Linked DNA regions of Homo sapiens: region 1 is reported to be linked to region 2. Evidence: microRNA targets listed by miRTarBase, many of them from high-throughput screens and not tested one by one. Region 2 holds a microRNA gene; the other region holds the end of a gene's coding sequence.

Region 1 (5,301 bases), not on the chromosome of region 2:
ATGTTTGTATAGATGACCAAGAATGTTTCTTAACCCTGTAGCCAACACCGGGTGATTAGATGCTCACACCAAGACAGTCAGGATTCCCGGCCACGGTGCCGACCGAACGCATTCAGTGGGGACCCTGGGGCCTTTCAGGGCTTTCAGAGCAGCTGCCTGGCTCCAAGAGGCCCTTTGCAGTTCAGCTCAGTGGGACTCGTTGCTTTTAACTTGAGGGAAAGAAACACACAGGTAAAATGGTCTCCTTCTATCCCAGCAATTTGTGCAGACGGCAGCTACTACAAATTCCTGTTCAACCCCAAGGGGGAGTGCATCCGAGATGTCTACGCGCAGTTTCTAGAGATGACCGATGACAAGCTGTGACTCCAGCTGGGGGCGCCACAGCACCCACCACCTGCCGCCTTCAGACTCTCGGGGCTGGTGCCAGTGCCCCAGGGGCCTCCTGGGCCACGGGCTGGAGGGGCTGCCCAGGGACCTTGGTCTCGAAGCCATACGTGGTTGTCTGCTTTCCTAAGGACTCCCATTTCCAGTATTAAAGAGAGAATCATCATCAAGGCACCGTAGGTAACTCAGTGGCTGTGACCAGCTCGACTGGCGGCCACTGGCTGTTCCCATGAGTTCAGCTGTGACGTTAGCTTCAGTGGCTCCGCCGCATCCTCACACTGACGGGGGCTCCATACGGACCTGGGGACTGGGCTGAGAGGGTGGACGAGTTCAGGTTTGTTTTTGCAGCAGATTCCGTCGTTCTTACTGAGTCTGCAGCGGGGGAGTGAACAAGTGTGCAGATGTAAGTTCTTACATGATAAGCAGATTGAATACAACACCAGCAGCTTGCCTTAGAAAAGGAGAAAGGAATTCCTTTTCCCGCCCGAACATGAAGAAAAATGACCTGACCCTGTAGAGAGAACACAGTGTGAATGTTTCCCCTCGTGTGAGCCCAGCCTGTGGTCTTCTCCGTACCCGCAACGTGGTCATCTGTGCCCGTGACGTCACCTGTGCCCGTGCGTGGCGTCCCCGTCTCCGTTGGGGCCATTAGAATGAGGCAGACACCAGGCCACTCTAGAAGCCGAGCCGTCACACCTCAGGCGTGTGCGGGGCGGGGACGGGGGGTCTCCTGGTTACATTTTGGATTAAACCTGTTTCCCGGTTATGTGTAGGGAACAGCAGAGTGATGCACGAACTTTGAACATTCGTTATGGGGAAAACATCCTTTAACTTCGGGGTCGTCTGCCAGAGCAGGGTCTGGGAGGGTCCATGCAGTTCCCGCTGGTGTGGAGGGAAATGCCCTGGTCTGGCCTCCGAGCCCCCAGGTCCACCGTCTCCCCTCCCCTCATTTGTAAGAATAGCTACACACTAACATTTTGGGAAGGAGAGGCACATAACTTTTTTTAACATTTGGTAACTAGGTTATGGGCTCTACATTGTCAGCTACTTGGGATATATATTTAATTTTCTTAAATTCCCGTTAAACTCTATTTTATGGTTTTGATTTCAGATTGCAAACATGTAAAACCTGCATAGCAGCGAGTTCTCGGTTTTGCCGGTTTCTTTAGTTCTTTACTGTCACTGTCATGTAATCAGCTAATTCTCTGTGGATGTTGCTGTAAAGTATGCATGTTCCTTTCATGTGTATTTAATCATGATGTTTAATTTTGCACACTTATTTGTAATGTTTCTTTTAAATAAAAGTGACTAATTTTGTTGTAGTCTGGACCTGTAATGGGAAGTAGAATTGTGTGTTATGAAGCCAAACACTCTTCCCCTTGCTGTGAGAATCTGGTTGGAGTGTAGGCTTCAGAACAGCCTGTGGGCCTGAAGAGGCGCCGGCCTGTGACAGGACAAGGTGGAAGCCAGGGTCACTGGGTGCGGAGCCTGGAGCTTCACTCCCTGTGTCGGGACAGGACAGCCTGCCCTCCTCATTCCCTGTGTCGGGACAGGACAGCCTGCCCTCCTCACTCCCTGTGTCGGGACGGGGCGGCCTGCCCTCCTCACTCCCTGTGGCGGGACGGGGCGGCCTGCCCTCCTCACTCCCTGTGGCGGGACGGGGCGGCCTGCCCTCCTCACTCCCTGTGGCGGGACGGGGCGGCCTGCCCTCCTCTCTCCCTGTGTCGGGGATGGGACGGCCTGCCCTCCTCTCTCCCTGTGTCGGGACGGGGCGGCCTGCCCTCCTCTCTCCCTGTGCCCCAAGGGCACCTCTGGAGGAGGGAGGGAGGAAATGCATCTGTAGGAGGCCTGTGTGGCTCTGGGAGGTCTGAGGCTCCTGCTGGCCTGTGGAGGTGGAGGGTGGCTGGCAGCAGCAATGTCCCTGCATGTTGAAGTGGCAGCTTCAAGTGAGCCGGCGTCACCCTGGCTTGTCTAACACTTGAGATCTGACTCTGGGTGGGGGAGTAGGAGCGTAATTACCAGTTGATAAACATGAATCTGGGGGAAATGCATGCAAGAAGGGTGGGTTTTCTCGCAGTGCACGTGAACAGCCTCAGAACTGATGCGGACGGCGGGGCTGTGTCACAGGCCCGTTCACCAGGAACGTGGCGAGGGCCTGCACGGACGTGCCTCATGTGAGGCCCTGGCGGCACCGGCCCTCCCCAGGCATGTGCTTTTTAAAAATCACTGTAGAGCGGCAAGGACACGGTGTCCCTAGGCCGGCGGACTCGGGAGCGCAGCTGCTTTTCAAGTGGAACTGATGGGAAGCGCAGTGTATGGGAAACAAGGCCGGGCTGCTGCCTCCCCCACGAACCTCCTGTGCCCCGGACGTGGGTGCGAAGGGACTCCAGAGTGACTGCCTCAGACGGTGCCTACTCAGCAGCTTTCCTGTCTGATCGTACAGGTGCGTGGGCATGGATGACTCCGGCTGCGTTTCTGGTCTGTCCTCCCTCCCCTGTGGCCCTGGGATGTCTTGCGGGGACAGGCGGCTTGTGCCCTGTGGAACGCAGCCCTGACCCATACCCACCCTGTGTTTGGCGTTGATGCCTGTGTGAACCCCTGGCCACCTCCCGCTCCCACCACTGTAGTCGGGGGCGCTGGCCATCTGCAGCCTTCTGTGATCAAAGAGTTTTATATTTGTGTTTTCTTTCTGCAACCAAACCAAGCCCCTGAATGCCAGAGCTCTTTCACGTGACTTAGTCCTCATCTCTCTTCTGTTGTGTCAGAGGCATTTGGTTGATGACATTGTTGAAACTTGTACCAAAATTTTTCTCTTCCAGATGGATCAGAGAATACAATGAAAAAAAAGTTCCTTATAAAATAATAGAAAAATATAAATTTGTAAGCAAAATTGCCCCGTGTTTCTACCTCCAGAGAAGATCACTCTCAGACAACCCCACACCTGAACGTAACATCTATTTTTATTTAAAAAATTGTTTTGGTAGAGACGGGGTTTCTCCTCCACCTCCTGGGCTCAAGCGATCTTCCCACCTTGGCCTCCCAAAGTGCTCGGATTACAGCCACCACGCCTGGCCGCCTTTTTTATTTCAGATACATTTGTCAGTTCTAAAGTTGGTTTCTAATTCGTGGCTGATGACTTGTGTCTGCCCATTTGTACGCGCTCTGTGCGCTTTCAAGTCCTTGTCTGCCGATTCCAGCATCTGGGTCTTCTTGGAGGATGCCTCCTGATTTTCCTTTATTGAGTGGGGACTTGGGGGTGACCCTGCCTGCCGCTAGGAATGGCTGTTGAATTTTGTTAAGTGACTTTTCTGCATCTGTTGTGATGATCACACCTATCTTTTACGCCGTGAACGTGGAGCATCACGTTGATTTTTGAATGTTGAGCCAACCTTGCTGTCCTGTGGGAAAGCCCACTTGGTCACAGTGTGTTATCCTTAAATACTGCTGAATTCGCCAGGCGCGGTGGCTCACGCCTGTAATCCCAGCACTTTGGGAGCCTGAGGTGGGTGGATCACCTGAGGTCAGGAGCTCGAGACCAGCCTGGCCAACATGGTGAAACCCTGTCTCTACTAAAAATACAAAAATTAACCAGGCGTGGTGGCGCGTGCCTGTAGTCCCAGCTACTTGGGAGCGTGAGGCAGGAGAATCAGTTGAACCGGGCAGATGGAGGCTGCAGTGAGCCGAGATCGCAGCACTGCACGCCTGCCTGGGTGACAGAGACTCTATCTCAGGAAAAAAAAAAAAGAATTCTACTAATACTTGGGGATTTTTTTTTTTTTTGGATGTATATGTATAGAGGATTCTTATTTCTAATTTAGCTTGTAATATTCTTGCCGCATTCTGGAATTTCGTATCAGGTTAGTGATTTTGTGGTTTTGGCATTAATTTTAAAATGATTTGTCTTACGCAACATCCACCAAAATGTAGACATACAATGGGTTTTAACAAAAGCAAATGTAGACTTGAGACTGAGGTGGCATCTAGTGAAATGTCATTTCTTTTGTAGCTCTGTTCAAGAGAGACGCCACCGTCTGTAGAGGCCGTGAATCCCCCGACATTTGCTCTGAGCCTCCCACAGACACCTGCGGCCCCATCTTGAGTTGTCCATGCTGGCTGCCAGCCAGAAGCCTGTCATCTGTGTAAGATGTTTCAGATGGTGAGTCTGACGACGCTTCTGGGGCATGCGAGCTGAGGGCTAATTATCTCCTAATCTCTCTCGGGTATGTGGAAAAAACAGGCAAGGATCTGGCCAGATACTGTGGAAAAGGGTGTCCTCCTGACCTTGATAGCAGAGTGTAACTCCAGAAAATCAGCATTTTTCTACCTCAGTTTCAGTATTTGCACAAGGGACTTGAACTTATGTCTCACATTATTTTTACCATTATCAGCATATACGACAGCTGCCTATCCTTTTTTTTTTTGAGACAGGGTCTCACTCCAGGCTGGAGTGTGGTGATGCAATCTCAGCTCACTGCAACCTCTGTCTCCTGGATTCACGTGATCCTCCCACCTCAGCCTCCTGAGTAGCCGGGACTACAGGCGTGCACCACCACGCCCGGCTAATTTTTGTTATTGTTTTGTAGAGACGGTGTCTGTGTTCTCCAGGCTGGTCTTGAACACCTGGCCTGAAGCAGTCCTCCCACCTCAGCCTCCCAAAGTATTGGGATTACAGGTGTGAGCCACCGTGCCCAGCCGTGCTTCTTTTTTTCTTTTTTTTTTTGGCTCTGTCACCCAGGCTGGAGTGCCGGGGTGCAATCAAGGCTCACTGCAGCCTCGCCCTCCTGGGCTCAAGTGATCCTTCTGCTCCAGTTTCCCAAATAGCTAGGACCATAGGCATGCACCACCATGCCTGGCTAATTTCTTTATGTTTTGTTTGTTTGTTTTTGAAACGGAGTTTCGCTTTGTCTCCCAGGCTGG
Region 2 (5,373 bases):
CTCAAAAGAGTATGCAATCTTAGATATTCAATAGATGTTCAATATTAAACACACTACTAATTTAAAACGGAATTGACTGTATAATCTCAGAACACATTTTAGTTTATAGACAGGAAAACAAGGACAAGTGAAGTGGCTGTCCCAAAGTCTGTCACAATTACTCAAGTAAGAGCAGAAGGACTCATGTCCAAATCTAACTCGCAGTCCAGTCTTCCAGTTACGTCATTACCTCCCTCCTTTCCACGTTTTCTTCAAAAGACTAGTCAACTGGCCAACTACTGACTTAAAAGTCTTTCATATAATGCACTGAATTCCAAAAATCGGTAAGATCATCATGTACAGTACCTAGAAATTAAGACCTGGCAATATACATTCATTTTTAAAGGCCAATTTTAAACCTTTAAAATAAATACCAACCTCATTTGACGTGAGAGGGTAAAGAAACAGGAGATTCAATACATCGCTACCATTAAAAGGCATCTCCAACAGATGATGTGCCACCTCATCCACTAGTAGTAGTTTTGTTCAGGCTTGGGAGAAACAAATCTAAATCTGACTTACTTAAATTCCAATTGTTCACAACATGGTTTCTAAAAAAGCCTGTCTTGGAAACATATACGTCAAACTCATGAACCTAATTTTCACATCAAACCAGAAACAAATCAGGATAATAGTTCTCCATTAATTCTTTTCACGGATACAAAATGCTAATATGATACTCCACTATTCTGTACTAAAGTGACGTGCTGCAAAGTTAATTTTGAAAAGGGAAGTTAAAATGTTCACAGCAGAGATCAGCATTTTGTGTACTTTAGAAAACTGAGTTACAAGAATTTAAAAATACAACACAAAGCTAATAGCTAAATTAACTACCTGTTTCCCCAACCCCCAGGGGAAAACAAAAGGGAATTAGCTAATATAAAGTTTAGTGTTACTAAGTGGACTACAACATTCTATTTTCAGTGTATGTGAGACATTATTTAAACACTAAGCACAATGTCTGGAATACAATCTCAGTCGACAGTTATTATCACTACTACTACTTGCAGCCACAAAATACTATCAAGTAATTTTTGCAACAAAGATACAAAATTTACCGCTCTTCCATTTTATGTTGTTCATTTTAAAAATAAACGGCAAAATGCCAAGTGTGTTAAGCTTAGAGAAGGCTTTGAGTCAGCATATAAATCATATTCAACCGACACTTGATTTCCAATCCAAAAGCTCCTTATGTAGTATGACTCACCAAATTCCCGATTTCTTCCAACTATGAAAAATAAGTTACACTCCTCCCTTATAGCTACCACCATGACCTTCGTAAAAATTAGGTTAAGAGAATAATTTAAAAATTCTTAAAGACACCCCTTACCTTGATTTCTGGAGAAGATCGCTTGGTGAGTTTAATACAAACCACCAAGGGGTACTAAAGCTGTGTGACCTTTAGGTATGTTCTGGGATACGGCCTAACAAGACTGCCTTTGGGGGATCCTCTGGGCAGCTCTGGACCTAACTAGGCCTGGGTACCAGCGGCAAGACTCTTACTCAGCCCACCGGAGAGGCCCAGGCTCCATTCCCAAGCCGCAGAATCCAAGCCAGCTCACCCTCAAAACCGTCCCTGACGATGACCCACAGGGTCTCCGCTCCCCCTGCCACCTCGTCTGGCGCCAAGGCCGGCTGACTCAAAAGCCCAGGAGTCGAGTGAACGGCGCCATTTTAGGCGGCGGCGGCAACCAATCCCTGCGCGGGAGGCAGGGGGCGCCGGGTCGTTAGGAAGCCGCCGCCGGCCAGGATGGGCGCCGGTCTCGGAGACTCGGGGGGCCCGGACCGGCGGCCTCCGCCATGTTGCACCCTCCTCACGGCCGCCTTTTCCTCGGCGGGCTCGGCCCCGCGGCGGCTGTCCGCAGCCGTACTACAGCTCACCTTCTCGCAGAGGCTCTTGACCTGGGACTCGGACAGCTGCTTGCACTCGTTCAGCTGCTCGATCCACTGGTCCAGCTCCTTGGTGAACACCTTCTCGTCCATGATGCCACCCGCCCCAGCCGGCTGCCGCTCCGCGCTGCTCCCGCGCCGCCGCCCGCACACGGGCCTACACGCACACGCCGCCGCCGGTTCCTCGTGTACTTCTGGCGGCTGTTGAGGCTGGCGCTGGCCCGCTGGCTCTCACCGCAGTACTCGGCCGTCGGCCGCTGCGCCTCCTCCTCCGCTCGCTGAGGCTCCAGAGCTCGGCTCTCTGTAATGGCGGCCGCCGGGCGTGGTGACGTCACGCCCGGCGTCAGGAGGCGGCGGGGAGCGGAGGGGAAAAGGGCCGGGGAGCAAGCTGCGCAACTGCAGAGCCCTCCCCGGGCGGCCGCACGACCGGAGTTGGGGCGCAAACTGGGGGTCAAAGCGCAGGCGCGACGTAGCCGGCTGGTAACTGAAGCGCCTTGACTTTTTGGGCGTGGCTCCCGGAGGGCGGGGTGGTGGGGGAAGGGAAGGATGGAGCTGGAGCATGCGCAGTGCGCACAGCGGCGAACCGGACTAATCCCTGAGCACTATTCCAGGAGAGGCGAGGGCTTGGGCCGCGCGCAGGCGCAGACCGGATGGAAGCCGGGGCCACTGGCAGCCTGTAACTGGTTCCCCTGGGAAGGCCGCTCTGGTGATGAACTCAGCTCCTCACCTGGGGCCTGGCAGTCCGATCACGGAAACGAGAATTGCGACCCCGTGGCTCATCTGGGGTGCTGCGGCTCTGTAATCGTGTGGGTTTCCGTCATCTTTGGGGGCAGGAACGGGCAGCGAGTGGCCGCTTGGATTAACCACCCCCACCTCTGGGCGCGGCTGGCACCTTGTAATTAGGTCACTCGTAGGTGGAGGAGCGTGTACCTACCGGGGGAGTGCTGCGCAGTGCACCTGACTTCCGCGGCACACACCCGTCCCCGGACCTAGGTGTCTCGTCGGGCGCGATGGCGGGGGCGAGGCTTGGGCTTTTCTTTGGGCCTCGGACCGCGGCTCGCTTCCACGCGCCCCGCTCCTCGCCGGTGGTTGCTTTCCTCCAAGTTTAATTCTCTCTGGGAATGAGAGACCCTCAACCCCTGCGCGCCCTGGCCTACTTTCAAGAGGGGAAGCCCAGAGAAGATGGATGCACCTGTCCTGACCGCGTCTCGGTGGCGTGAGAAGCAGCTGTGATACGTGCTTAAAAGAGAGAGCTCGTATACCCTAGGATTGGACCTCTGTCTGGTTATGAATCGCTTTGGAGTTTGCGAAACGTTTTCACATTCCATTGTCCCTGCTTTTACATAAATATCTGGTTCCATAGAGCGCCAGCTATATGCCAGATCCGGAGGGGTCATCCAGACGGACCAGGGACCATGCCCTGGAGCTTGTATTCTCCCAACAGTACTGGCTGAAGATGGTTTGGGATAGGCAGAAGAGAGATCATAATGCCCCCAGGATTTGAAAGATATAGAAGCTTTCCAAAGAACATTTAACCATAAAGGGCAAGGCAAGAGCTGAACCTGATCGCCTGTCTTCCAGGAACCCCACCCTCAGTATCAGGCAACCCTTCCACACCCAAGTGCTCAGCGATGCTTGGGAGGAGACTGCTCACTCTGCGGCTCTGAGGGCATCATCCCCACCAACAGGCTGAAGAAGGCACTGGAGGCCCCATCAGCCAATAGCAGGACTGAAAATCCTCCTTTATCCAAGACAACGTGTTTGGCAAGGCCGACTGGCTTGGCCTCCCTAGGCTGGAAATTGCAATTCTGCTTTCCCTTCACACCTCCCATTAGTGTGCACAAAAGAAAGTACCTTAAATCTACTCTTCTAGAAGTCTTATCACATACTTAATTTACCAGACTGGGAAAAAGACCCTTTAGCCCAAATTCTGTCCCTGTTTTGCAGTTAACATCCCCAAACAATAGAAGGGTAAGAGTTAAGACCAAGTGGAATGAATAAGGAAAAAATCATCACTTAGTGCCCGTGATTATAAAGCCATACCCAGTGTGCTGTCTAATCTTATTCTTTACCGTTGCCATGAACCTGTGTGAGAACTGTCTGATGGGGCAAGAAGCAGACAGGCACTCAGAAAAGAGAAGGGACTTGCCTAAGATAGTGGTCAGGATTTAAAACTGCACACTCCCAAGTACAAAGTCTCAGCCACAGTCATGCAGTTGACCTTCCAAGGTCTGACATATGGAACAGAATCAACATTATTTCTCTTTGCCTAGATTCTCTCTCTTTTTTTTTTTTTTTTTTTTTTTTTTTTGAGCCAGAGTCTCACTCTGTTGCACAGGCTGGAGTGCAGTGGTGCAATCTCGGTTCACTGCAAACTCTGCCTCCCAGGTTCAAGCAAATCTCCTGCCTCAGCCTCCCAAGTAGCTGGGATTACAGGCACCCGCCACCATGCCCGGGTAATTTTTATATTTTTAGTAGAGACGGATTTCGCCACGTTGGCCAGGCTGGTCTCAAACTCCTGACCTCAGGTGATCCGCCTGCTTCAGCCTCCCAAAGTGCTGGGATTACAGGTGTGAGCCACCGCACCCAGCCTGCCTAGATTCTCTTACCTGGAAAGGGTGTGGTGATGTTAGTTTGATAGATGATGAAGTATTGAACACCCACTGTGTGCTAAAATTATGAGTTTTTCCAAAGTACTGTGAGCCCCTTGTTGGTAGCATTAATGTAGGTGTTATTTATTTTCTCTTGATGCAGATTACTTGGCTCACCACCATCACAAAATGGAGGGAAGATATAATAATTATATGTACTTAAAACATCCTGCCAAATAATTAAATGCCATGACTTAACTTCTTAAGGAATGAATTCTAGGAAGCTCTTAGCATCAGACAGTGAAGTAAAGCATACATGATCATAAACAATACAGAAGTAAATTAATCAGGATATATTTTTCTTTAGAAGAAATTCAGATTGTGTATTCTGTAGAACAAAATATCTAATGGACATGAAAATGAAAATTCATTTTGACTTATCTGGTCTTGACTAATTTGACCTCACTGACTCAATTCTAGAGCTGAAGAATATTTGGAACAAAAAATTTAAAGCAAACCAAAAAGAATTGTCTTTTTAATTTATTGGGAAACACCAGAGAGTAAATAAAGCAAATATGCTTTGAGAAAGAATCTTTGCTCTGATGGCAAATTCAATATACAGCAAGTCTGAGTGTTGCCCATGATGTTTAAACATAGCTATAAATAAAAATCATCTGATGATGGGGGCGGGGTAGGAGGAGGATAACCTTGAGCAAATAGCTTTATAATAGGCACCCTACCCAAGATACAAAAATTGACATTAAACATGGAGTAGGAATGAGATATATCTTGTCAGCAATTCTCTTGGCATTAAGTTAGGTTTATTTTTTTGTTGTTGTTCCTTCCAGTTCCC

The links. Region 2 holds the annotated microRNA hsa-miR-3661 (UGACCUGGGACUCGGACAGCUG, at 1,938-1,959, shown strand). A microRNA usually pairs through its seed, bases 2 to 8, with sites in the 3' UTR of a target mRNA and lowers its output. Matches are read on the target gene's strand: a 7mer-m8 pairs with bases 2 to 8, a 7mer-A1 pairs with bases 2 to 7 and ends in A, and an 8mer does both.
Region 1: the mRNA of WDR45B is a reported target of hsa-miR-3661. Seed matches in the 3' UTR shown: 7mer-m8 at 1,307-1,313.

What each region holds. Positions count from the first base shown.
Region 1 is chr17:82,610,981-82,616,281 of GRCh38, reverse strand. It overlaps WDR45B (WD repeat domain 45B), which reads left to right. Exons shown (of 10, transcript NM_019613.4): 10 at 257-1,720. The coding sequence ends at 363. Among named protein-coding and RNA genes, the nearest start is that of FOXK2-AS1, 25 kb to the right of the region's middle.
Region 2 is chr5:134,223,840-134,229,212 of GRCh38, forward strand. It overlaps MIR3661 (microRNA 3661), which reads left to right and starts at 1,918; the gene lies at 1,918-2,013. It overlaps PPP2CA (protein phosphatase 2 catalytic subunit alpha), which reads right to left and starts at 2,234. Exons shown (of 7, transcript NM_002715.4): 1 at 1,921-2,234. The coding sequence starts at 2,022. It overlaps PPP2CA-DT (PPP2CA divergent transcript), which reads left to right and starts at 2,571. Exons shown (of 1, transcript NR_186539.1): 1 at 2,571-5,111. RefSeq lists enhancers at 1,524-1,633, 1,973-2,492, 2,493-3,014, 3,014-3,173, 3,015-3,534.